7 linked regions of the Homo sapiens genome follow. The protein of the gene in region 2 purifies or fractionates together with the protein of the main gene of each other region. This does not show direct contact. Each region holds a gene or a part of one and is shown on either strand. Other genes may lie near its edges. The genes, in order: CS, OCA2, CIRSR, ACO2, PSAT1, BRI3BP and RNPEP.

Region 1 (3,500 bases), on a different chromosome or scaffold from region 2:
GGTGGTGCGCACCTGTAGTCCCAGCTACCGGGGAGGCTGAGGCAGGAGAATCGCTTGAACCCAGGAGGCAGAGGTTGTGGTGAGCTGAGATTGTGTCACTGCACTCCAGCCTGGGCAACAGAGCGAGACTCCATCTCAAAAAACAAAACAAAACAAACAAACAAAAAGGCCCAGGGTGGTGGCTCACGCCTATAATCCCAGCACTTTGGGGAAGAGGTGGGCGAATCACCTGAGGTCAGGAGTTCTGGACCAGCCGTTCTAGACCAGCCTAGCCAACATGGTGAAACTCTATTAAAAAGACAAGGCCAGGCGTGGTGGCTTAAGCCTGTAATCCCAGCACTTTGGGAGGCCGAGGTGGGCAGATCACGAGGTCAGAGGTTCGAGACCAGCCTGGCCAACATAGTGAAACCCTGTCTCTACTAAAAATACAAAAAGTTAGCTGGGTGTGGTGGTGTGCGCCTGTAATCCTAACTACTCGGGAGGCTGAGGCAGGAGAATTGTGTGAACCCAGGAGGTGGAGGTTGCAGTGAGCTGAGATCGTGCCATTGCACTCCAACCTGGGTGACAGTGCAAGACACCGTCTCCCAAAAAAAACAAAAAAAAAAAACAAAAAAATTAGCCAGGAGTGGTGGTGTGCGCCTGTAATGCCAGCTAGACATGGTGGCATGTGCCTGTAGTCCTTGTTACTTGGGAGGCTGAGGCAGGAGGATCACTTGAGTCCAGGAGTTCAAGGTTACAGTGAGCTATGATCATGCCACTGCATCCTGGCCTGGGTGATTAGAGAGAGACCTATTTCTAAAAAAATAAAAATAAAAATGGCTGGGCACGGTGGTTCACATGCCATTTCACTCCAGCCTGGGTGACACAGCGAGACTCCATCTCAAAAAAATAAATAAATAAATAAAATGAAAAACAAAATATTAAGATTATATGACCTTTTGTACCTGCTAATGTGTGCAGGTACAAATATACACATTCATACCACCTAAAGTGTTTATAAATAAGCCTTTATAAATAAATGCTTTATGTGGTGTGAATGTGTATATTTTGCATCATTCTGATACCAACTCCCCAATGCCAACCAAGTTAATATCAATTTTAAATGCTCTCTGTCTTCCTCAACTGCAAACACAATTCTCTACACACAGTTGGTGCCAAATTAATATTGACCAACTAAATCAATCTAGATTTGCCAAGGACCCAAGGTGGTTGCATCAGAGCAGTGGGTCATGCTCTTCTGTGTCTTGCACCACAGTGAACTCTTTAGGGCCTTCCTGGTGGCTGGCACCTCCTGGCCAAAAATCATTTAATGTACCTGCTTTGTAAAAAGAAAATTTTCTGTTCCTATACTACCTATCTCCAAATAAGGAACAAAAGAAAATGGTACATTCTCCTGTAAACCTAGCCAGATCATTTGTACTTTTACCCAGTGTTTCTGAGTTTGTGGGGTACTAGAAGAGGATGGAAGGAATTATGTACTATGCATTGGGATAAGAAACAATCTTTCCATACCCCAACCAGCGTTGTAAACTATTAAGGACACTTTTCATTTTCAGAGAATAAAGCTCATTTGTTTCTGGATCTGGAGCCTACTCCAAGGATACTAACCACTCTCCCACTCCTGATGGGTATCTTAGGTTGGCTAGCCGAGAACATGACTGACTGGCATTAGTCCTCCTAGACTCCAGAGTTGCAATTGCTGTTCTCCCAACTTGTAAGATTTCTCAAAGTTTTCTGTATTTGAAGAAGATAGTGAGGGAAAGTGACCCTCTGGTGCTAGCATGAGACTGCTCTGTGAAACCTTCCTCAGGGACCCTGCAGTTAAGTCACATCCTTTTCTTTTCTTGTTTTCTCCTTTTTTATGTACAGATAGGATCTCACTATGTTGCCCAGGCTGATCTCAAACTCCTGGCCTTAAGCAATCCTCCCACCTCAGCATCATGACTCACTGGGATTATAGGTGTGAGCCACCTACCTAGGTCTCTTTTCCGTTTCAACAGCCATGTGTACATACCTCTGTTACAGCAAGACTATGGAATTTTTTTTTAGATGGAGTCTCACTCTGTTGCCCAGGCTGGAGTGCAGTGGTGCGATCTCGGCTCACTGAAACCTCCACCTCCCAGGTTCAAGTGATTCTTCTGCCTCAGCCTCCTGAGTAGGTGGGATTACAGGCGCCCGGCATCACGCCTGGCTAATTTTTGTATTTTTAGTAGAGATGGGGTTTCACCATATTGGCCAGACTAGTCTTGAACTCCTGACCTCGTGATCTGCCCGCCTTGGCCTCCCCAAGTGCTGGGATTATAGGCATGAGCCACTGTGCCCGGCCGACTATGGAATTTTAATAATTTCTTTTTTCTGCACGTGTGTCAGCCTAACCAAACAAACAGTCCTGGTGATAGAAACCATGCTCTACTTAGCTTTGTAATTCCAACAACTGACAAAAAACAAGCCTCCAATGAAAATCTGTTAAGTTAGTTTCTGATTAACTCAGAGGTAATTTTTCTAAAGATTCTGTATTTTTTCCCTCCCTTCACACTCAAGTCCTTTGAATCCCCATCACACACCGATCACCCCACCCAAATTTCCTACCTCCCAGTACTTGGTTCGGCTGATACCCTGTGCATATGCTCGGGCAAAGTTACTTTCACTGTTGAGGGCTGTAACAGCTGCACTGAGCTGAGACATGGGGTGTAGATTGGTGGGAAAGTTGTCCAGCATGGTGACCACATGGGAAGGCAGAGCTGCCCTCTTTGCCCACTCTTTTGAGAGCCAAGATACCTGTGGAAAAAGAGACAGTGCTCAGAACACCAGCAAGGACAAGGAAGGAGAAAAATAAAAAAGGACAGCAACATCTGAGTAAAGAAAACCCAAGAGAGGTCAACCCAATCCATTTATACAGCAGAACTCTGCTGATTCCTTCCCTTCACTACGCATCTCTATAAATGCCGGATCAGCATTAAGTGTCTGAGATTAGAGAAAGGCAATGAAGAAGGGGAATGAGAAGAGCTAATAATATCCTTCTGCTTTACCTGTTCCTCTGTTGGGATATGTCCAGTTACCAGCAGCCAAAATAAGCCCTCAGGCAGGGGTTCTTCCCCACCCTTAGCCTTGGGTAGCAGTTTCTGGCATTCAGGGATACTAAAGCCTCGGAAACGGATGCCCTTGAGAGAGGAGAGAGAGAATTACAACTCAAGTTTATAGCCTAGAAGTCACACGACTGGTCTTACTCATCAGACCTTACAACAAGTTAGAGTAGAACTTTTTATGTTAATTATTATTTCTGTAGAGGTGGGGTCTTGCTATGTTGCTCAGACTGGTCCCGATCTTCTGGCCTCACGCAATGCTCCACCTTGGCCTCCAAAAGTGCTAGGATTACAGGGGCAAGCCATCATGCCTAGCCCAGAATACAATTTTTAATTTTCTTTTTTTTTGAGACGGAGTCTCACACTGTCGCCCAGGCTGGAGTGCAGTGGTGCGATCTCGGCTCACTGCAAACTCCG
Region 2 (2,971 bases):
ATACAGCAGATATTCAGTAAGTCATTTACCTACTAATGGCAGGTTGCCATTGTTATGATTTATCCATGTCCACAGGGAGGCAGCATATGTAGTGATTAGGAGTACACACTCTTAATCACTCTTAATCACACAATCTAACTAGAGTTAGACTGATGCATTTGGATTGTCACACCAGAGCAAACTAGCTGAGAGACCCAGGCAAGCCTGCTTACCTCTCAACATCCCACCTCTGCAGTAGGTGTGATGATGCCAATTCCAGAAGGCACTGTGGGCAGTTGAGAGGGTCCTGTGCATGGAGAGTGTCACAGTGACTAGGTGTTGTGAGGGAGAGTAGGGTTTCTGATGGGTCTGAGTGATTGCATCAGTTCTGGGTGAAATGAAAATGTTTGGTGATGCTAGGTGATGCTCCTTCTCTGCGTTGGTGCCATCCTCAAGACATCAGTGGCTCTCACTTGGGAGCACGGCAAAACCACCCACCAGGAACTTTCTCCAGTCTTGGGCTTCTCAAGCAAGGTCTGCTTTTTGTGGAATTCACCCCTTGGCAGGCAAATTTGCTTCTAAAACATGGCCAGGTGTCTCAGCACCCGGATTGAGATTCTCGGCATCTTACCTGACACTGACTCACTCTACACAATCTGTCACAGAGGAACGAAGGCTTTGTGCTTCCATGAAGGCTTGCAGTGATGTCTGTGATGCCTGGAGTTGACCAGACACTGTCGTGGGTTGTGTTTTTCCAGAACTCAATGATCAGGGCTGACATTTTGCAAACATGTTCAGCTATTTTCAAAAACAAAGTTGATAAAGTTCAAGAAATTTAAGTAGTTTTCCCAAAATATGTTCTGTGTTTCTTTTTGTTTGTTTTGTAAAATAAAATGTGTTCAGAAGAGAAGCCAAGAGAATCCTACCACTTTCTTGAAATGCCCAAGTCTACTCTATAATTTCGGGAGCTGTCTCGCTCATGGAATCAGTTTTTGTGTTTAATTGTAGCTCTGTTGAGGAACCCTTGCTGTGGCTCTTTCTGAGTAGCCTCTTCCTACACTTATGGCCAGGGAAGAGAGAATGTCTTTATAATTGCCACATGCTAGGCTCTTACTGCTAAAACTTAAGCCTTTTGAAACCAAAATTGTAACATTTGCAGGGGCTTCCCTTAGTGACCAGGCAGCACTGAGCAATGGCTACAGAGCGTGCATTACCCATGCCAAGTGGCATCTGTCAGTGCCTGGAAGCTGGGGTAGGAATTTGTGGAGATGTGTGTACATTGGAGGAGGCACACAATGAGGGATGCTTCTCTCTTCTCATGACTGCTTTTGTATCTGTGCATACCCTCCTTGTCCACACGTCTCACACCTCACCGGCTACAGAAGAAAAACTTCTTCTTCCCTTTGCCTTTCCTTAGACAACAGTTGGCCTTAGTTTCCAACACTACTTATCAAGCTCTCCTTGGCCTTAAGTGTGAGGGACTTCAGGAGCCTGCTGGAAGCTGGGATCTCTGGGAAATCTCCAGAGAAGAAAAGTTGGAAGATGACACAAGTAGAGGAAACATCCAGAGATTTAAATGGTGGCCCAGCACATGGCATTGAAAGACCAACAGTCTAATATAGATGAACAAACAGAGGCTCCATATAGCCATTAAAAATTTGAGAAAACCTTAAGCAGTTCTCAAATAAAATTGCACACAATGGAGGATGTCTAATAGAAGCATGCATTCACATAATTTAGTCTAAAACTAACTTCCTGATTTATGGAAATAAAAGGTAGTGGCCATTGTGAAAATGCAAAGGTGCTAAGGCCATGTTCTCATGAGCTATGAGTCCGTATCTCATGAGATTATCCAGATTTCAGATGCCATAACTCATTTCTCTTTGTATTTCAGGCTGGGCTTCCCAATGATGGTTGTGTCCTGCACTGTTGGGATGTGTTATCTCCTTGTGGCTCATGTGGTGGTGGGATGGAATTAATAGACATCCATCTATTGCTCGAAGACTAAAGGAAACTTCATCCATCACAACCCATTAGTCATAAAACTACCCTGACCCCACTGTTTGAAGAAGAAAAGGTGCTTACCCTGGAGATGCTACAGAGACACAGTGGAATAGACCTTGACACTAACACTCTAATTCAAGCGAATGTTGGAACACCATGACCTCCTCTGTGTGTCCTTTCTCCCCAAGGACAAAATGTAGAAAGATGTGAGATAACTTACTCAAGATTCCCCTCCAGAAAAATACGTATGTTTAAAAACCCTTCCTGCTATACATAGGAAAAGACACACATCCACCTAAAATTGACTGTACTGTTTAACTGTCAATTCTCCTGAGGCTAAACACAGTTTGTTTTTCTTGTAATCACTTTTCATGTTAAAATAATCAGCATTCAAATTGTATGCTTTCTGAATATAGACTTTCTGGGAAAAGGTTTACTGCTCGTAAGGAAACATTTTATGTATTAAAATAAACTGTTCCTTGATAAAAGGCTTTGGAGTAGTTTACATTATGTAAAATTGCATTTTATCCATTTATATTTTTCTCTGCAGTTTTAAAGTTATTAATTAAAAGTCCAGAAATTTGACTTGCAGAAGATCATAGGTATCTTTTAAGGATATCTTACATATTTAACAGCTTAGAGTAATGATTTTTCCATTTTGCAAGTGGTGCATGCTATTTCCATCAATTACACAGACGTACACTCGATACCCTCAGTCCTGCTCTCCCTGCAGGACGCTGTGGCTCAGTCGGTGTTTATTAAATGCAGTTCTTTTGTGAAGCATTCCTTGTGAGGTAAGGGTAATGAGAACAAAGACCAAGGGGGAGCCCTGTGCTTCCTGCGAGGTCTCCTCTGCTCTGCCTCATCAGTATCATGGCTATGCCCCAGAGGAAGAAGCCCTTCTTCAGTTTCTGATCTTCTGTGCATGACACCTTGGAATGAAAATGGGGACACTGCTCCGAAGTGATTGTGTGTCAAGCGTCTGACT
Region 3 (3,500 bases), on a different chromosome or scaffold from region 2:
TTTAGCACACTTTCACAATGTATGACTGTAAATAGAGTGCTTAGTGAAGTGCTCGACAAATAGTACTTAATAAAGAGTAACAACTATTATTTTTACCAGTACCTATTCAACTTTCTTATATAAGAAATTGTCTTTTTATAAGATATATTATATATGTACATATATTACTTATATATGTACATATATATTTTATATATTATATATAATATATATTATATGATATATATAATATATTATATAATATAATATATAAAATATATATAATATATATTATATTATATAAATTATATTATATATATCATATAATATATTTTATATATTATATAATATATATTATATTATATATATTTTATATATTATATTATATATTATATATATCATATAATATATATTATATTATATATTTTATATATTATATAATATATATTATATATTTTTATATATTATATAATATATATTATATATTTTATATATTATATAATACATATATTATATATAATATAATATATATTATATAATATATATTTTACATATGTATATATATTATATATATATATATTTTTTTTTTTGGTAGAGACAGGGTTTTGCCATGTTGCCCAGGCTGGTCTTGAATGCCTCAGCTCAAATAATACACCTGCCTAGGTCTCCCAAAGTACTGGGATTACAGTTGTAAGCCACTGCACCCGGCCACTATCCAAATTCCATGACTATCTTACGGTACTTTTCATAATACAAAAAAATGCTCTTAGTAGTAATACTTTTCACAATGCAGTCTTATTCACATTTTTTTTATACTTAAACCTTCTCCTATCAACCAAAGTTCTGAGTTTAAAGTTCTAGGTTTAGGAGATGAAACAAGTCAGGTTTAATCAAGATATATTTAGCAAGTATCTTTCTACTTTCACATTATTATGACAGAGGCTACGTAGAGTTACACTGACAGAAATGACTCCAGATCTTTTGAGAACTCAAAATTTGGTTGATAAAATAGATGATTACAGATACGTTGATAAAATAGATTACACAAATATGTTCAAATGTAAAATAACTACTTTTATGTATGGTGCCTTAATAATTTCAATTATAGCTGGAGTTGGATCTTAAAAATTGTTTGGCTTATTCTTAAATTTGTCATGGTAGAATAATACTAGAGAATTCAGAAAGAAGGCATTTGTTCTAAAATGCAGATTTGTGAGGGCTCCTTTCTAGATCATCTCAGCCAAGCCTTCACAGCATTGAAAACCAATGTTCCCACTTAGAAAAGCAGGTCCACTGAAGAAACTGCTTTCAACATTCATTTATTTTACAAACTTTTCTTTGCTGTGATATGGATAAGTATCAAAATACCAATTGTGTACAGTTCCATGTTCTGATTAGACCCAGGCTCTACTAGAAAAATACCATGAAATCGAGTCTCAGGAAAGAAAAAATTCCTAGAAGGTAAATTATGCTATACAAAATTATGTGTGTAAAGCGCTTAATCTACTCACTAAGAGTATTCATTTTTACAGAACAAAAACAATGAAAGGTAAAAAAAGAATGTCCTGTTGTAAAATAGGTATTTTATCAAAGAATAATATATAAACTCAAAAGTTCTGGCTATGAGGAAATGGCATACAACTGACTCCACAATTATAGTATGGCAGTCCCAGGGGAATGCCACAAATGGCATAGGAGGGAGACTAAAGCTGAAGTCAAAGACACTTGTGTTTCACTGCAAACACTAGGTCCATCTGCTCCATTCGAAGTTCATCATTCTTTTCTTTAGCCAGGATGGTCTTGATCTCCTGACCTCGTGATCCACCCACCTCGGCCTCCCAAAGTGCTGGGATTACAGGTGTGAGCCACCACACCTGGCCCATCATTCTTTTCAAACAATGCATTATCACCTACAATTTTATGGTATTAAGTAGGAGAAAAGGGGGCAGTGAGTTGTAGGTTAGGTAAGGCTGAATTAGAAATGCCTTTCCTGGCCAGGCGCAGTGGCTCATGCCTGTAGTCCCGGCACTTTGGGAGGCAGAGGCGGGTGGATCGCCTGAGTCCAGGAGTTCAAGACCAGCTTGGGCAACATGGTGAGACCCTGTCTCTACAAAAAATACAAAAATTAGCTGGCCGTGGTGGCGCACATGCCTATACTCCCAGCTACTAGAGAGGGTGAGGTGGGAGGATCACTTGAACACAGGAGGTTGAGGGTGCAGTGAGCCTGTGATCTCACCACTGCACTCCGGCCTCAGCAACAGAGTGAGATCCTGTCAAAAGACAGACAGAAAAAAAGACAGACGGGAAGGAAGAAGGGAAGGAAGAAAGAAAGAAAGAAGAAAGGAAGGAAGGAAGGAAGGAAAGGAAGAAAGAAAGGAGAAAGAAAGGAAAGAAAGAAAGAGGGAGGGAGGGAAGAAGGAAGGAAGGAAGAAGGGGAAGGGGAAGGAAAGAGGACAGACTGACTGACTGGCCTGTCTCTCCTTCTCCCAAATTTAATATATTATGTACTTAATTTATAGGATGCCACTGTTGGCTGAAACTAAATTGCTACCCTAAAGTGAATATAGTTTTGCTTCCTATTACAGTGATGATCTATTTTTTTTCCCTTCTCATTGTGTGTGTGTTTTAATTTAACTTTATACTACGGAAAATTGCAAACCTACATCACATAGCTTCAACAATTAACAATATTTTGTCATTCTTGTCTTAGCTATTACTTCCAAATTTATTTTTTTCATAGAATATTTTAAATAAAATCTCAACCTCAATACCTTTATTATGCTTCTCAACATTGATAATTTTAAAATGTCATCGAATAGTCAACATTCAGATTTCTCAAACTGTCTCAAAAGTATCTTTTTACAGTTGGTTTGCTCAGATTAGGATACAAACAAGGTCCACATATTGTATTTGATTTATAGATCTCTTTTAATCTAAAACATTTACCTATCTTCCCCTCCCTATTGTTATTCATTTGTTAAAGAAATTGGGTAATTTGTCCTGTAGATTTCCCACATTCTGGACAGTGATGCCATTTAACATGTTTCTCTAGCTCTTATATTTCCTATAAATTGGTAGTTAAGTCTAGAGGCTTATTATTAAATTATTTTGATATTTTATACCACATACTTTGGGGGAATATATGGCAAGTTTTGTAAAGTTTGGATTTAGGAAAATGACACCTGAAAATACACTTCTGGTTAATTAAAACATGTTTCTAGCTAAAGAAAAAGGAGGCCAAGACTACTTGTATGTTCTTGTAATCACTTTCCCATGTATTTATTGCAGTCAAACTAACAGTAATATAACCATAAAAGTTGTTTTAAAATAAACCCCAACATTATCACAAATGAAAGAAAGTACAATCTTCTGTCCCTTTTTCTTTCCTAAAGTTAAATTGGCTATATCTAGCGAATAAGCCAGTCCCTGTCACTAAATGTAAAAAGGACAGTTAGACACTAGTTAGAGTATGTGATCAGGAGGGAGATATGTGTCTAATGGGACTTATCAAGAATTATCTT
Region 4 (3,500 bases), on a different chromosome or scaffold from region 2:
GAATATTCACAATCAAGAAGAATTTTTAAAACTCCTAATCTCAACCCCCAGCCAGGAGCAAGCTCTTAGAGCTCTTGGAGAGGTGTGCTGTGTTTCTGTGTATTGTGTGCATAGATTTTCCCGTTTTACATTTTATATCACCCATGCTGCTTTATGTGACTTTTCATGCTTTACACATGCAGACGCCCTGGCATGCCAGTCACTGGCATCTGCTGCTGCTGGGTACAGTGTGGCTGTGAAGAGCATGGAGCCTGGAGCCAGATGGCCTGGGCTTGAATCCTGGCTCTGCCACCTAACAGCCACTAACAGCTGAGTGACCCTGAGCAAACTACTTCACTGTCTATGTGTGGGTTCCCCATCTGTAAAACAGGAGTCATGATCGTACTGACACCTTTGAAGGTGGTGTTGGGCCTACTGCTGCTATCACCAATGAGAAAAATAAATAAAAAATAAAGTTGTCTGGAGAAGTGACAATATGTGAAAAGAGATTTCTATACCGTCTGGCCGAAAATAAGGGCAATATAATGTGTTCGCCCTTATTCATTGAAGTAATTTTAAGAAAAAAAATATTTGGTGGTTTAATAATTAGAAAGTAAATTACTAAATTAATAAAAGAAACTATCTTGGCTGGTTATATGGGCTTTTGCCAGTAATCCCAACCCTTTTTTTTTTTTTTGAGACAGAGTCTTGCTCTGTCACCCAGGCTGGAGTGCAGTGGCACAATCTCGGCTCACTGCAGCCTCCGCCTCCCAGGTTCAAGCAGTTCTGCCTCAGCCTCCCGAGTAGCTGGGACTACAGGCGCCCGCCACCATGCCTGGCTAATTTTTGTATTTTTAGTAGAGATGGGGGTTTCACTGTGTTAGCCAGGCTAGTCTGGAACTCCTGACCTCAAGTGATCTGCCTGCCTCGGCCTCTCAAAGTTGTGGGATTACAGGTGTGAGCCACCGCGCCTGGCCAGTCCCAACACTTTGAGAGGCTGAGGCAGGAGGATCATTTGATCCCAGGAGTTCAAGAGCAGCCTGGGCAACATGGTGAGACTTTGTCTCTACAAAAACAATTTATTGAATTAGCCAGGTGTGGTGGTACTCACCTGTGGGTCCCAGCTACTCAGGAAGTTGAGGCAGGAGGAGTTGCTTGAGCCCCAGGAGTTAGAGACTGCAGTGAGCAAGCCTCGACTGTGCCCTTGCACTCCAGCCTGGGCGACAGAGCAAGACCCCATCTCAACAACAACAAAAAGAGACTGTCTAGACAGAAAGTGCGATGTTATTCAGGTTTTATAGACTTTTTAAAAAGAACTCTTATTGCCCTGATTATAAAACAATCTTTAAAACCCAGAAAATACTAGAAAGTATAAAAGAAGAAAATTAGCATCTCCTGTCAGCCCCAGCCCATCAAGGATGGCTGTTCGTATGAGCCCTCTGACGTGCCTACACGTGTACATGATATTGCTGTAAAAGGGGTCATAGTCCTAATGTGTTCAGCATCATGGCCAATGGCTACAGCATCTTTCTTCAAATGACGCCACGTCATGAGTTAGCCTGTCCTTTATTGTTGGATATTTCGGTTGCTTGCAACTGGTCTCTGTTAAAAAAGTCTCTGGCCCAGCCCAGATGGTGAACTCTTTTGGCCAAGTCTGGATAATTTGAAGTCAGGTGGAGACCTCTGCTCACTGTCTCCTCCTGACCCTTAACCCCACCACCCACAATGCACCAGGTCTAATTGGTAGCTGCACCAATTCAAGCTATGAAGATATGGGGCGCTCAGCAGCTGTGGCCAAGCAGGCACTGGCCCATGGCCTCAAGTGCAAGTCCCAGTTCACCATCACTCCAGGTTCCGAGCAGATCCGCGCCACCATTGAGCGGGACGGCTATGTGAGTGCCCATATCCCCCTGCCCATCTCCCCCACCCCATGCTGAGTAATGCCTCCAGGCGGCACAAGCCCAGAGGCCTGTTGGGCCGGGGCTGGGGCAGGTCCCAGTGGCTGCCCTGGGGTTCCAGTACAGCACTTCGTCCTGCAGCCACCACATCACCCCTTCCCATCAGACTCTCACCCACCCTTGACATTCTGTCTTCCTCTCTCCCTGGCAGGCACAGATCTTGAGGGATCTGGGTGGCATTGTCCTGGCCAATGCTTGTGGCCCCTGCATTGGCCAGTGGGACAGGTAAGAGGCGTATCTTTTGACAAGACAGCCCCTTGTGCACAGGGTACAGAGCCCCAGAAGTTGGAGGGGGAATTATTGGGGTGGAGAGAAGAGACTCCAGCCAAGGTCTCTAGCTCCAGGGACTCTTGCCCATTAGAAGCCTCTGGCAGACATGCCTGGGAAGAGGGGCTGGGTGAGGAAGGGCCCTGCAGAGGCACTGGGGGGCAACTTGGCTGAAGCCTGGGCTGGCAGGAGGAAGCCAGCGCGGCCTCACCCTGACGGACACAGCAGGAGCCGTTTGGGAGGAGGCAGTGCCCCAGGTCAGGAAACTCAGGCCTTGACCAAGGCCTTGCCTCTGGCTTACGTGTGGTTGCAGGCTGGGCCCAGTGATCCTGAGGTTCCCTTCTGCTCTGCGCGTGGCCCCAGGAGGAGGCAACCCTGGCAGGGCCTCTTCATTTTCCCTCGGTAGGAGCTAGGCTGGGCTGCGCCACAGGAACCCAGCTTATCTGTCCTCGGGACAGGCCAGGTGACAAGGCCAGATATCCCTAACCCTGATCCCTCTGACCTGGCAGGAAGGACATCAAGAAGGGGGAGAAGAACACAATCGTCACCTCCTACAACAGGAACTTCACGGGCCGCAACGACGCAAACCCCGAGACCCATGCCTTTGTCACGTCCCCAGAGGTGAGACTGCCCAGCTGCGCACAAGCCTGGGATGGCCTCTGGGGGTCCCTGGCGGGTCAGAGGAGGAGGCAGAAGGAGATGGGGACTGGGGTCATCCAAGTGGTAGCCAGGAGCTACAGGCCTTCCCAGCCTCAGGCGCATGCTTGGTGCTTCCTGCCTGGGGCTCCCTGGGTCATGGGATTATGAGATATTTATACAGTGGTTTGTGCTTATGAGCATGGAATTTGGAATCTCACTCACTGCCTAGGACACATCCCAGCCCTGCCTCTAACTCGCTGTATGAGTGTGGCCAAGTCACTTACCTTCTCTGTGTCCCCGTAATCCTCGGGATTACCTGGGAAAGTGCGTGGGACACATGCAGTTTCCAACCCCAGGTAGGAGTTCCACAAAAGCGAGGCCTTTGCCATTGTTCCCGTGGCCAGAGTGAGCCTTGCCCTTGGCGGTATTCAGCCCTGGCCGTGACTGGCACATGGCCAGGCTCTCTTGACTTGGTTGTTTATCTGCGTGTTCTACAAATATGTCTTGCTAAATGGGTGAAGGAATGGCTCCTTCCATGTTTTTAGTGTCCTGCGCACTGAGCAGGTTTGCATCATACCAGCATTTCTGCGCCAGGGCCCCCACTCCCTCCAGGATAGCTGTGAGGAGAGAGAACAGCACTGCCGGCCCGGCCCTGCA
Region 5 (4,217 bases), on a different chromosome or scaffold from region 2:
ACCTTTTTTTTTAAGATGCTTGCTAAGGAGGGCATCATTAAAACACAGCTATAACCTAAACTGGATTGCAACTTGTCTCAAAAAACAGTATTTTAACAATAAAGAATTAGACAAGGCCGGGCGTGGTGGCTCACGCCTGTAATCCCAGCACTTTGGGAGGCCAAGGCGGGCAGATCATGAGGTCAAGAGATTGAGACCATCTTGGCCAACATGGTGAAACCCCGTCTCTACTAAAAATACAAAAATTAGCTGGGCTTGGTGGTGGGTGCCTGTAATCCCAGTTACTCAGGAGGCGGAGGCAGAAGAATCGCTGGAACCCGGGAGGCGGAGGTTTCAGTGAGCCGAGACCAAGCGACTGCACTCCAGCCTCGTGACAGAGCTTGACTTCTCTCAAAAAAAAAAAAAAAAAAGAATTAGATTAAAAAAAAGACTGCCTTGACGACTGGGTCTAAGAATGTGTTATTGTTTTCTGAAATGTTGGATGCTTGTTAGCACCAGCTGATCAAATAAAATAGAGTGAATCTTTTCTTTTAGTAAAGAGAAACATTCATCTGTGAATAATCTTTGAACTTGCTCCTGAGACTGTATCTTTCTTATAGACAGCATTCATTGAAAATAGTTCTATAAAAGTTTATAACCAAAATAATTACAAACAGTTTTAAAGACTCCTACTGAAAAATCACACCTCCCTAATCCAGTAGGTTTTTTTTTTTCCAGTTGAAGAATGCATTGCTTTTGTGGATCATAACCAATTTTTTTTTTTTTTTTTTTTTTTTTTTTGTTAAGAGACAGGGTCTTGCTCTATCACCCAGCCTGGAATGCAGTGGGACAATCACAGTTCACTACAGCCTCAAACTCCTGGGCTCAAGAGATCCTCCCACCTTAGCCTCCTGAGTTGCTTGGATTACAGGCGTGCGCCACCACACCCAGCTCACGACTAATTTTTTTAATGAAACAGAACAGACTAGAGCAGGATAGAATACAAAATAGTGTATGTCACAGGTAATTAGGCTACACATCATTTCATAAGGCATTTATTTTTGTTACAATTGAATGTGTATACTTTGTCATTTTGTAAACATGTTTTTCACTGTAGGTTACAGTCAAAAGAAGTTTGAAAGCTTCTCTAATATTTACAATTCAACTAAATCAAGGAAATACATAAAAAGCAACATCTGCCTGCCCCCTCACCCTCCTGCCCCCCAGGTTACATGCAGTCCAAGGGCAAAAATCCTCCCAGAAAAATTAATAACAAATAATTGTATTACTGATGACAATTGCCATTACAATTATAGTAATAAATTAATAACGAAATACATAGGGAACAAACGTTGGGAACACTCCAAAACATGGGGGGTGCAGGAGGAGGCTACAGGAAACATCTCCACAGCTGGAGCAGGGAATCTCGCCTAAAATGAACTGTAACCACTGAGAAAAAATAAGCCCTGTCCTCTCAGCTACTGTGAGCGCTGCCCCTAGAAAAGTAAGAAGTCCTTTCCCCTTTAAAATTGGATTCTCTGTTCTTACCACAACACAGAGGAGGCTCTGTCCCAGGGAGATTTCTACTCTGCTCAACAATTGATAATTGTAAAATACTTGGCTATGCCTCATGCTGCTCCAACATATTATCAGCTCTATCCTGGTTAGAAAAATAAAAATCTAACGGCGGCGGCAGCCGCCTGACAATGGGCTCAAGGCACATCGGAGACTTTGCCTTCTTCACTGCGGGTGGGGCTGGGGACGGTGGGTTTGGCGGGGGAGGGGAGGAGCCGGGCTGGGGCCTGGGAAGGCAGAGAGTGAGTTCCACCAGCAAGATCTGATTGTGGCCCGGGAGAGAATTCAATCACTCGGTTTACTCCAGAACGAAATGAACAGGGAATTGGGTTAAGCAGCCCAAAGTCTACCAGAGTTAGAATACTCGAACGCCTTTAGGGGACAAGCAGGTTAAAAAAAGGAGGGGGGTGGGGAGAAAGGCTTTAGGAAAGGGTAGGTTCTATGGGGGACAAGGAGGGGAAAGCTGGACTGAAGGTTTTCAAATTTACATTTCTGAAAAGCAGTGTTCCTAAGTGCTGGCTAAAGCAAACACTGGTGTAAGGCGTAGGGGGGCACGCACACGCGGACCTTTAAGTTTGCAATCCCTTTCAGCTAACGTGATCCACTGCATATGCAAAACCTGTCATCGGTTCATTCCCGTTCATCACTCATTCACACTATGTCCATTCATGCATCCGCTCCACACTGCCCGGGCTCGCCGCACAGCTGCGCGAGGCGAAGGCAGAGATCAGAGCTTTTTCTTTTTCGCCCCGCCCCAGCCCCCGGACCGGCCCAGGAGATGGCACAGCCCGGGCGTCTGCAGGTGCGTGGCACCGGCGGGACAGCAGGCCCCGGCCAGCTGAGTCGTGCACTGCCTCGCACCAGCAGTCAGGGCCAGGGGCAGCTGCACGGGCACGCCTCGCCGAGCTTCCTCACCAACTGCATTCTTCCCGAAGCCCGCTTGCCGGAGCTGCTGATCCCGCTGTGCACGCTGATGCAAAGCGCCTAGGGGACTCAAGGCAGGGAGCGGGAATCCGACTGCCACACGCAGGGATGCAAACCCACCCGCGTGCGTGCTCCCGCCTGAACCTCACTCCCGGCGCCCGCTCGCGGGGACTTACTGAGTGCGGCAGCTTGGCGGGACCAGGCCCAAAGTTGACCACCTGCCTGGGGGCGTCCATGGTGCGGCGGCCAGGGCGGTGAGTCAGCCAAGGAGGACCGAACGCGTGAACGGCTGGCGTTCCTGGCCGCTGCGGTGAGAGTCTGCAGCCGGCCCCGAACCCCCGCCTTGTTCCTGCGCCGAGTCGGCGCCCCATTGGCCCGTGCTGTCGCAGGCCCTGCGCTAATTGGTTCGCGCGAAGGAGCTCACATCCCCATTGGTCGCGCTTCTGAGCCGAGTCGAAGCAGTTGCTCCTCCTCGCGTTTACTGTTTCAACCCCCATTTTTGATCAATGCAAGGAGCGCGCGAGATTGCGCCAGCCAGCCGAGCCGGCTCGGCTGCGCGCCCGCCCGAGGATTGTGGGCGGCGGGAAGAGGCTGCCCCTGCCAACCTGCCTTCGCCCCTTGAGCCCGCAATCTGGCCGGTTCCAGTCCTCCAACCCCAGAGGACCTCAGCTCCTCTCTCTTGGCTGAAAGGGCAGTTGCCGAGCAGATTTGTAGCCCCCATCCACCCACCTCTCCACCACCAGCCCCCAGTTTGGGCTGTGATGTATTTGTTCCAGAACCACCAGTCACTAATCTACCAAACTTTTCTAAGCACCCCCCACGGGCGTCAGATACCCCAGTGGAGAGAGAGGACCCCCCCAAGGTTGGAAGCGCAGGATGAAGAAGGGCCGGGGGTGGGTGGATACGGTTCTTTGTATTTGCACGTGGGTCCTGAGTTCCTGCAGGATTAAAGAACGGAGGTGGCCAAGGACGCAGGGAGGAGCGATAGCCTGGGAAGCGTGGATGCCCGCCAGGCAAGTCCTTTAAAGTCGCTGATTCTCCATTTCCTCCTTTGGGAAACGAGTGAGCTGGAAACCTGCGACAGCTCTCAGGTTGCGCCCGCGCTGACAAGCTGTGAGTTTAGAAACGTGAGGAGATATTAACAAGAACGCGATACCCATAGGGCGCTGCAGCCCAAACCAGAAGAAGGTGGCCCCTAGCCAGGCCAGGCGCAGGGCCAGAGCTGCTCAAACTTTTCCACAGAAGTGTCCTTCTCAAAAGAACTCCAGTGGAGACCCGCATGGGGTTCTGAAACAGAATACCCTCCCCCTACCCTGCAAGAAAGAAGTTCCTTTGAAGTCTGGAATTTCATCATTTTTAAACTGTGAATTTTGCATTCTCTACCATAATTTAACCTAGTTTCTTTTAATGTAAAAATATTTTCCCTGTCTGAGTAAAATTGATGCGCCAGGAATATATACAGTCCAACTGCCCCGTTTAGAGAAGGCTTGTAACTGGACAGGACTTTGGCTTTTGTTTGCTTTTCCTAATGAGAATGTGGGCGGTATGGGGCTGAGAGCAGAGGCACTGCTCTGGATCTGGGAATTGGAGGACAAAGTTTCCAGAAAAAGGCAAAATGAACAAGGCCCCTGCGTTCCTCAGCAACTTCATTAAGAAAACCGCGACATTCAAGACAGAATAAATCTCAGCCCAGAAACTCAGGCATGCAAGAAGCATCACATATCCATTATTTTACGTAA
Region 6 (3,500 bases), on a different chromosome or scaffold from region 2:
GCATGCCTGTAGTCGCAGCTACTCGAGAGGCTGAGGCAGGAGAATCACTTGAACCTGGGAGGAGGAGGTTGCAGTGAGCCGAGATCGTGCCACTTGCACTCCAGCCTGGCGACAAAGCGAGACTCCAAATAAAATAAAATTAAATTAAAACATAAAATACTGTAGCTGCCCGGGTGTGGTGGCTCACGCCTATAATCCCAGCACTTTGGGAGGCCGGGGTGGGCAGATCACCTGAGGTCAGGAGTTCAAGACCAGCCTGGCCAACATGGTGAAACCCCGTCTCTACTAAAAATATGAAAATTACCTGAGTGTGATGGTGCGTGCCTGTAGTACCAGCTACTCGGGAGGCTGAGGTGGGAGGATTGCTTGAACTTGGGAGGTGGAGGCTGCAGTGAGCCGAGATCATACCACTGCACTCCAGCCGGAGTGACAGAGCGAGACCCTGTCTTAAAAAAAAAAAAAAAAAAAAAAAGCTGTAGCCAATTCACGGAGGCATTTACCCTTCACACGTGAGCCGAGTGGCCCATGTAGGTGGGTTCTATTATGGCAGCACTCTGCGTGATGCAGCCCTGCAGAGTCCCAGCCCCCATAGATACCTTGGTCAGCCCTTACAAGGGAAGGGGCGTGTTTTACTCAGTTTTGCTCAGTTGTTGGGCTGTCATCAATTAGTATCAAGTTCAAGTTAATCCCCTGGGCCAGTAGACCACTTGGTGGCATTCATCATGGGCTCGCTGTTTTTTCCCCTGTAATAGCCAAGGCTGGAAACCATGTAGGTATCCATGAGTATGGGCCTGGCTCCAGGTGTACCATGTTTAAAAAGGATGAGGCAGCTCTGTGTGGTCTGAGTGTGAGTATCTCCAAGACAGAGTGTTGCATGAGCAAAGCAGCTCAGCTGTACACCTGTGCTGCCATTGCAGAAAGAATATGTCTGTGCCATTATTCACCTGGCACGTCTAAGGAAGGGTTCCTCCGGAGGGGGATTCCAGTTGCCAGGAAATGAGAGGGAAGGCTTAGTCTCCACTGAATACCTGTTGGTAGGCTTGAGTTTTATGCTACATGTATACAATATCACTAATTTTTTAAAAAAAAAAGTTAAAATGAGGCTGTACCTTGTATTCATGTTTCTTTAGCCCTGTGTCACCTGGAGGGCAAATAAAGACCTCAGAGGCTCAGGGTCCTTAGAGTTGGATAGAGCATGGGGCTGTATCATTACCAGCTTCCTTGGAGCAGAAACTTCCACTCTTTAAAAATGAGAAACCCGCAGGGTGCGGTGCAGTGTTTCACGCCTATAATCCCAGGACTTTGGGAGGGCCAGGCAGGAGGACTGCTTGAGGCTTAGAGTTTGAGACCAGCCTGGACAACATAGCAAGAGCCCATCTCTACAAAATAATAATAAAGCCTGGTGTGGTGGCTGCACCTGTAGCCCTAGCTACTTGGGAAGCTAAGGCAGGATTGCTTGAGCCCGGGAGTTTGAGGGTGCAGTGAGCTATCATTGCACCACTGCACTCCAGCCTGGTCAACAGTGAGACCCTGTCTCTTTAGAGAAATCAGGCAGAGGAAGGCAGAGATCCTGACCCAAGAGGAAGCATGAAAGACAGCAGGAGCAATGGCAAGCGGCGTAACGCGGCCCTGCAGAGAGTCCCAGCCTCCATAGGTGCCTTGTTCAGCCCTTGCAAGGAAGGGGTCGTTTTCACCAGTTTTTCTCAGTTAGGCTGTGATCAGTACCCAGTTCAAGTCAATCCCCTGGGCCAGTAGTCCACATGTGTGGTATTCATCATGGGCTCACTATTTTTCCCTTCCCAGGTATAAACTCCCAAGCTCCCCAGTTCACTGCTTGACTGATGGAGGAAAACAGTGATTGGGTGATGACCGTTTTCTTGTTTCTGCAGTTCTTGGCCAGGCTGACTGAGAGATTTGTGCTGGGAGTGGATATGTTCGTGGAGACACTGTGGAAAGTCTGGACCGAGCTCTTGGATGTTCTTGGACTTGACGGTAGGTGTAGGGGTGGCATTCACGTAAGGTGTCATTCTATTTTGGTGGTTCTCATAGTGTGGAACTGGTACTCACAGTGAGTAATACATGAGAAGGTTGCGGAGGGCTGGTCAGTGAGGATATGAGTGAACATTTTTTATTTTAATAGTCTCATATATAGGCCAGGCATGGTGGCTCATGCCTGTAATCCCAGCACTTTGGGAGACCAAGGTGGGAGGGTTGCTTGAACCCAAGAATTCAAGACCAGCCTGGGCAACATGGTGAGATCCCATCTCTATAAAAAAAAAGTACAAAAAAATTGCTGGGTGCAGTGATGTGCACCTGTAGTCCCCATCCACTTGGGAGGCTGAGGCAGGAGGATTGCCTGAGATGAGGAATTCGAGGCTGCAGTGAGCTATGATCATGCCACTGTACTCCAGACTGGACGACAGAGCAAGACTCCTCTCAAATAATCATAAAAATAAAAAACAAATGGCCCATCAAAGCTGAGATTTCCCAGATGCCACTTAGGATAAGGTGCGACTGGGTAGTGGGAGTGCCAATTTGTGTGCAAAACACATGGACCAGAGGTATAGTGCTCTGGCTTACTGGCATCCGTGCAAGAAATGACTAGTTATTTAGGCAGAAGGGGATTTCATGAGACAGAGACACTCACAGAACCATCAGAAAGGCTGAGGAAGAGATGCATGGCCTCAGACACTGCCGAACTGGCTGTCCAGGGTTGCAGCTGTTGAAACCGTTGAGTTCGAAGTCACACAACTGTAGTATAATTTGAGGACCAGGAGGCCACTGCTGCCGCCACAACAACTAGACTTTGCATGTGGGTGCAGGGACCCTTGCCATTTCTGGAACCATGCATATCAGCTGCAACACTTCACTTAATTTCCAAAGTCGTGTGTGTATGGGGGAACTGCCAGGTGGAACTTACTTTCTGTCCAGTCCCTAGCTGCGAGGGAGGCAGGCTAATGCGGTTCTTAGCTCTCCAGCTTCTGCCATCCAGGAAGGCAGCCTGGGAGCAGGTGTCACCTGATGCTGCACCAGCCCATCCACCATACCCACCGCACAGGGCAAGAATTGCCAGGGGAGCTGGCCCCTGGTTTTGTGGGCTAGGGGAGGAGGGTAGTCCAGTTTGATAGTGCAGTGCTAGTCACACGTTTATAATCAGGAAGAGAACATTGGTGAGGCACGGCCCCTCCCTTTCTACATGTGGGAGGGGGCACTGATACTGGTCTTGGCGGATGGCAAGGCAGCAACGGTCATGGTAACTGAGCTGGGCACTCCTAGTCCAGTCCTGCAGCCTGTGCTACCCCCAGCCTTACACTCCCCTTCCCAGGTGGCTCTGCCCCACCTCCACCTGCATTCCATCGGTGGGTGACAGGAGCTAACCCGGGCAGAGTGCCCAGGGTGTACAGCTTTTATACCCAGAGGAGACCTTGTCCCTTACCGCCTTAAGAGCTTCAGAGGCATCCCATGCTCTCAGGATGAAGTAACCTTCCCGTTTTCTCTAC
Region 7 (4,288 bases), on a different chromosome or scaffold from region 2:
CCATCTCTACAAAAAATAACAAAAATTAGCCAAGTGTGGAGGTGGCAGGTCTGTGGTTGGTCCCAGCTACCCCAGCTACTCAGGAGGCTAAGGTGGGAGGATCACTTGAGCCAGGGAGGTCAAGGCTGCAGTGAGCTGAGATGGTGCCACTATACCAGTCAATAAGAATTGATCAATTGACTGATCATTGAATGCCATCAGTCAGTGATGTTTTTACTGATCAGCTAGGAAATGAGTATTTTTTTTTTTTTTTTTTAGATGGAGCCTCGCTGTGTCACCCAGGCTGGAATGCAATGGCATGATCTCAGCTCACTGCAACCTCTGTGTCCCAGATTCAAGCGATCCTCCTGCCTCAGGCTCCCAGGTAGCTGGGTTTACAGGTGTGAGCCACCACAACCAGCTAATTTTTGTATTTTTAGTGGAGGTAGGGTTTCACCATGTTGGCCAGGCTGGTCTCAAACTCCTGACCTCAGGTGATCTGCCAGCCCTGGCCTCCCAAAGTGCTGGGATTACAGATGTGAGCCACCACACCCAGCCTGGAAACGAGATTTTTAAAAAGAACAATGTAGGGAGCTTTTTGATCCCTTCTCAAAAAAAAAAAAAAAAAAAAAAAAAAAAAAAAAAAAGAAAGAAATACAAAAGTTAGCAGTAAGAGCTAACACAGCTTACTTACCATGTACCACGCACCATATTAACCACTTATGGAAAGACAACTCATTTAACCTATGTCAAGCACTTAGACTAGTGCCTGGCTCATCTTATTAAATATTAGCCATCATCCCCCCTCCACCAAAATTGCTTACTCATCATCTTTGCTTTTTTGTTGTTGTTGTTAAAACAGGGTCGCACTCTGTTGCTCAGGCTGGAGTGCAGTGGTGTTATCAGGCTGTGAAAGGAAAATCTCTTGGGCCCCCAAAATCACTAAAGAAAACTCAACCTGGGAACCGCTTAGGGCACACCTGCCTCCCATTCTATTCAAAGCCACTACTCTGCTCACTGAGATGGATGCATATCTGATTTGCTTCCTTTGGAAAGGCTCATCAGAAACTCAAAAGAATGTAACCATTTGTGTATCACCTATCTGTGATCCGGAAGCCGCTTCAAGTCTTCCTGCCTTTGCTGCAAGTTGTCCCACCTTTTCAGACCCAACCAATGTACTTCTTACATATACTGACTGATGTATCATGTCTCCCTAATGTATAAAACCAAGCTGTGGGCCGGGCGCAGTGGCTCACGCCTGTAATCCCAGCACTTTGGGAGGCCGCCGAGGCAGGCGGATCACGAGGTCAGGAGTTCGAGACCAGCCTGACCAAAATGGTGAAATTTTGTCTCTACTAAACAATACAAAAATTAGCCGGGTGTGGTGGCGCACGCCTGTAGTCCCAGCTACTAGGGAGGGTGAGGTACGAGAATCGCTCGAACCCACGACGCAGAGGTTGCAGTGAGCCGAGATCTTGCCACTGCACTCCAGCCTGGACGAGAGTGAGACTCTGCCTCAAATAAATAAATAAAAGATTAAACTGTAAGCAAGCAGTTTACTATGAAACTTGCAACCAACTCTACCTGAGAGATAACTGGCAGCCACAGCCTAAGGACTCTCCAGGAAGGATTTTCTGACTCTTACAGACATAAGCCACATAACTCCATCCTCTTATTTCCAATATTTGCCCCGTCCCGAAAAAAAATTAAAGAGTTAACCAACAGTGAGAAGGCCAAATTATTATAATGCTTATAGCACCCTAATTCCAGTTCTCACTTTTACTCAAATTCTTTCGTTAATCAAATCCAGGACTTCACAGGAGGAAACAAAAACAAAGATAAGAGCTTTAACCGTGGAACTAGAAGGCAACACAGAACAAAGAGCTAGATCAACATCTGGCTAATTCTAGAGCCACCATAAAGCAGAGATAAGGTGGCTGATAATCAGGTACCTCGGCCCAAAAGTCCAAGAGGGCACTAAGTGAAGTGCATGAACAACAGGTCATCTAGAAAGCCACGGAAAATGTTAGAAACGGCAGTGTGCGATGAGCGGGAATGCGGCGCAATCTGGACAAGCCTCCAGGGCCAGGGAGGAGACGCGGAAGGACGGAAAGGGTGAAGGATGCACCGCCCAGTGGCTGGAGGAAGTCCAGAAGGAAACCAGGCAGCCCGGGAGGAAAAGAGGAAGCAAGGGGAGGAGGCCTAGAGGCGGCGCGCGGGGAGTAGGCCCCTCTAGGGACGCTCTGGAAGGGTCCTCCCTGTCCCTCCTCCCGGGTGGGGTAGGTGAGGGTGCAGGGCGGCTGGGGGCCGGAAGGGCAGGCAGGCAGCGGCGGGCGCAGTCTGGGGCGCACTCACCCCGGGTCCCTCCCCGACGCGGTAGGTGAGCAGCACCTGGAGGCGCTCGGCGGCGCGGCAGGGCTGCGGGAAGGACACGCACAGGGCCTGGCCATAGTGCGAGAAGGGCTGCGTGTAGAAGCTCACGGGCTCCGCAGGCGGCTCCTCCGAGCCGGGCCGCTCCCGCCGCAGCGCCGCCGCCGTCACCTCCAGGCACGGGTGCGAGTCCAGCCGCAGCTCGGCGGCGCCCTCGGGCTCCAGGCAGCGCAGGTCCAGGACCGCGGTGCCGCTCAGCCCCCGGCTCCCTGCGCCGGGCCCTGGAGGCCCGAACTCAGCCCGCAGGTCCAGGTGCAAGTGCAGCAGCTCAAAGGCCCGGAAGTTGGAGGCCGAGGCCACGTCCACAGCCTGCGCGGAGTGCAGCGGCCGCCGGGCCGCGCCGCTGCCGGGGGAATGCTCGCCGCTCGCCATGGCCGCAGAGCCGTTGCTCACCGGCCGGGCCGCGAACCCGAGGGGAGCCCCGCCCCGAGCGCCGCGGGCCCGCCCCCGCCGCGCGGGCCCCGCCCCCGAAATCTGCTCCCGACCGCATCCCCTCCCTGCGCTTTACCGCCCACTCTTCTAGCTGCACCCGTGCCTCGGGACTTAGGACAAAAGAGGCCGGTGGGATCGTGTGGCCCACGTTTGCCCACCCATATCCTACTGAGGTGTTCCAGTCGTCCCGGTGGGGCACCCTTCTCTGCTGACCCTTCCTGCTGCCTCATCTAGGCAGTGGCGTGGACTGAGCCCTGGCTGGGAAGGTCTGAGTTCCAGATCTCACACCCTGCGATAGGCCAGTTGTTAGAACTGTGTGTCACCTTGGGCAAGTCGCACAAGAAACATGAATCTTCCCGAGCCTTTTTCTGCACCAGTATAATAGAGTCATAATATCTGTGTATCTCACGAAGTAATGTGAGAACTCTACCAGGTAACCTGTCTAACACACTCAGCAAACAGTGAAACCCTGCACAACTTCACGGAATTCACACTGGATCGAGCCTCGTCCCCCAGCAACTCCAGGCACGCCTATCTTTCTATTGTTGGGTTAAGGGACAGGAATCAGCACCGCGCAATTTAAGGCCTGGCTGTCCATCGCATGTCACTTCTATTTCCCTTACTGTATTGTACCGCTTATTGAGCTAGGGTATTCTCCGCTGAATACTTTGTTTCTCTTCTGTACCAGTGGGTTGCAATGGGCCTTCTATGAATAGGAGCTAATCAATGATGATGTTTTTACCGTTCAGCTAGGAAATGAGATTTTTAAAAAGAACAATGTAGGGAGTTTTTCATTAAGGGAAATAGTATTCCGTTCTGTGCTTCCTAGTTTTGTAGAGTTGAAATTATTTTATTTCATGAAATAATGCTTATGGTAGATAATGACTTTAATATTCCATGTAAGTTCAATGTCAGGGTTTTTTGTTTAACTCCAGAAACCTTAGAAACCTGCTTTTCTGTAGCATTGAGAACAGCGCTTGGTACATATTAGACGTTGAATACTCCTATCTTGAAATTATTCAGTCTTCGATGCAATGCACTTTTGCTGAGTATCTGCTAGACACCAGTTGTTAAGCTAAGTGCCTGGGGTACAGTTTGAATAAGTCCGGCACAATTCCTCTTCCTATGGTGTTCATAGCCTAACTCACATTTTAGCAGACGCACAAGAAAACAGGTCACGACACTTCCACGTGCTGCGCTTGATACGGGAAGAAAAGGATGCTGGGGAGCACAACGAAGAGATGCCTAGCCTGATCCTTCTAGTTAAATATTGACAGAGGAAGAGGATGTCATCCTTAGCTAAAGGGTAAAAGATTTTAGGCTGGGTGTGGTGGCTCACGCCTGTAATCCCAACACTTTGGGAAGCTGAGGCAGGAGGATCGCTTGAGCCCAGGAGTTCAAGATGAGGCTACGCAACAGAGGGAGACCCCCTCTCTACAAAAACATT

Evidence for each region.
Region 1: the proteins of OCA2 (region 2) and CS purify together in Homo sapiens (affinity purification with mass spectrometry; one large-scale study listed by BioGRID and IntAct). This does not show direct contact.
Region 3: the proteins of OCA2 (region 2) and CIRSR purify together in Homo sapiens (affinity purification with mass spectrometry; one large-scale study listed by BioGRID and IntAct). This does not show direct contact.
Region 4: the proteins of OCA2 (region 2) and ACO2 purify together in Homo sapiens (affinity purification with mass spectrometry; one large-scale study listed by BioGRID and IntAct). This does not show direct contact.
Region 5: the proteins of OCA2 (region 2) and PSAT1 purify together in Homo sapiens (affinity purification with mass spectrometry; one large-scale study listed by BioGRID and IntAct). This does not show direct contact.
Region 6: the proteins of OCA2 (region 2) and BRI3BP purify together in Homo sapiens (affinity purification with mass spectrometry; one large-scale study listed by BioGRID and IntAct). This does not show direct contact.
Region 7: the proteins of OCA2 (region 2) and RNPEP purify together in Homo sapiens (affinity purification with mass spectrometry; one large-scale study listed by BioGRID and IntAct). This does not show direct contact.

The regions. Positions count from the first base shown.
Region 1 is NC_000012.12:56,279,831-56,283,330, forward strand, and holds part of CS (citrate synthase, mitochondrial precursor), read right to left. Parts: intron 3,162-3,500; coding exon 3,030-3,161; intron 2,779-3,029; coding exon 2,590-2,778; intron 1-2,589. UniProt on the Homo sapiens protein: Key enzyme of the Krebs tricarboxylic acid cycle which catalyzes the synthesis of citrate from acetyl coenzyme A and oxaloacetate.
Region 2 is NC_000015.10:27,754,375-27,757,345, reverse strand, and holds the end of OCA2 (P protein), read left to right. Parts: intron 1-1,873; coding exon 1,874-1,958; coding exon of another isoform or gene 1,959-1,987; 3' UTR 1,988-2,471; downstream 2,472-2,971. UniProt on the Homo sapiens protein: Contributes to a melanosome-specific anion (chloride) current that modulates melanosomal pH for optimal tyrosinase activity required for melanogenesis and the melanosome maturation. One of the components of the mammalian pigmentary system.
Region 3 is NC_000002.12:174,354,213-174,357,712, forward strand, and holds part of CIRSR (corepressor interacting with RBPJ 1), read right to left. Parts: intron 1-3,500. UniProt on the Homo sapiens protein: May modulate splice site selection during alternative splicing of pre-mRNAs. Regulates transcription and acts as corepressor for RBPJ. Recruits RBPJ to the Sin3-histone deacetylase complex (HDAC). Required for RBPJ-mediated repression of transcription.
Region 4 is NC_000022.11:41,521,117-41,524,616, forward strand, and holds part of ACO2 (aconitate hydratase, mitochondrial precursor), read left to right. Parts: intron 1-1,713; coding exon 1,714-1,871; intron 1,872-2,088; coding exon 2,089-2,162; intron 2,163-2,713; coding exon 2,714-2,825; intron 2,826-3,500. UniProt on the Homo sapiens protein: Catalyzes the isomerization of citrate to isocitrate via cis-aconitate.
Region 5 is NC_000009.12:78,295,708-78,299,924, reverse strand, and holds the start of PSAT1 (phosphoserine aminotransferase), read right to left. Parts: upstream 2,801-4,217; 5' UTR 2,715-2,800; coding exon 2,655-2,714; intron 1-2,654. UniProt on the Homo sapiens protein: Involved in L-serine biosynthesis via the phosphorylated pathway, a three-step pathway converting the glycolytic intermediate 3-phospho-D-glycerate into L-serine.
Region 6 is NC_000012.12:125,010,645-125,014,144, forward strand, and holds part of BRI3BP (BRI3-binding protein precursor), read left to right. Parts: intron 1-1,889; coding exon 1,890-1,992; intron 1,993-3,500. UniProt on the Homo sapiens protein: Involved in tumorigenesis and may function by stabilizing p53/TP53.
Region 7 is NC_000001.11:201,981,160-201,985,447, reverse strand, and holds the start of RNPEP (aminopeptidase B), read right to left. Parts: upstream 2,801-4,288; 5' UTR 2,782-2,800; coding exon 2,335-2,781; intron 2,088-2,334; exon of another isoform or gene 1,986-2,087; coding exon of another isoform or gene 1,932-1,985; intron 1-1,931. UniProt on the Homo sapiens protein: Exopeptidase which selectively removes arginine and/or lysine residues from the N-terminus of several peptide substrates including Arg(0)-Leu-enkephalin, Arg(0)-Met-enkephalin and Arg(-1)-Lys(0)-somatostatin-14.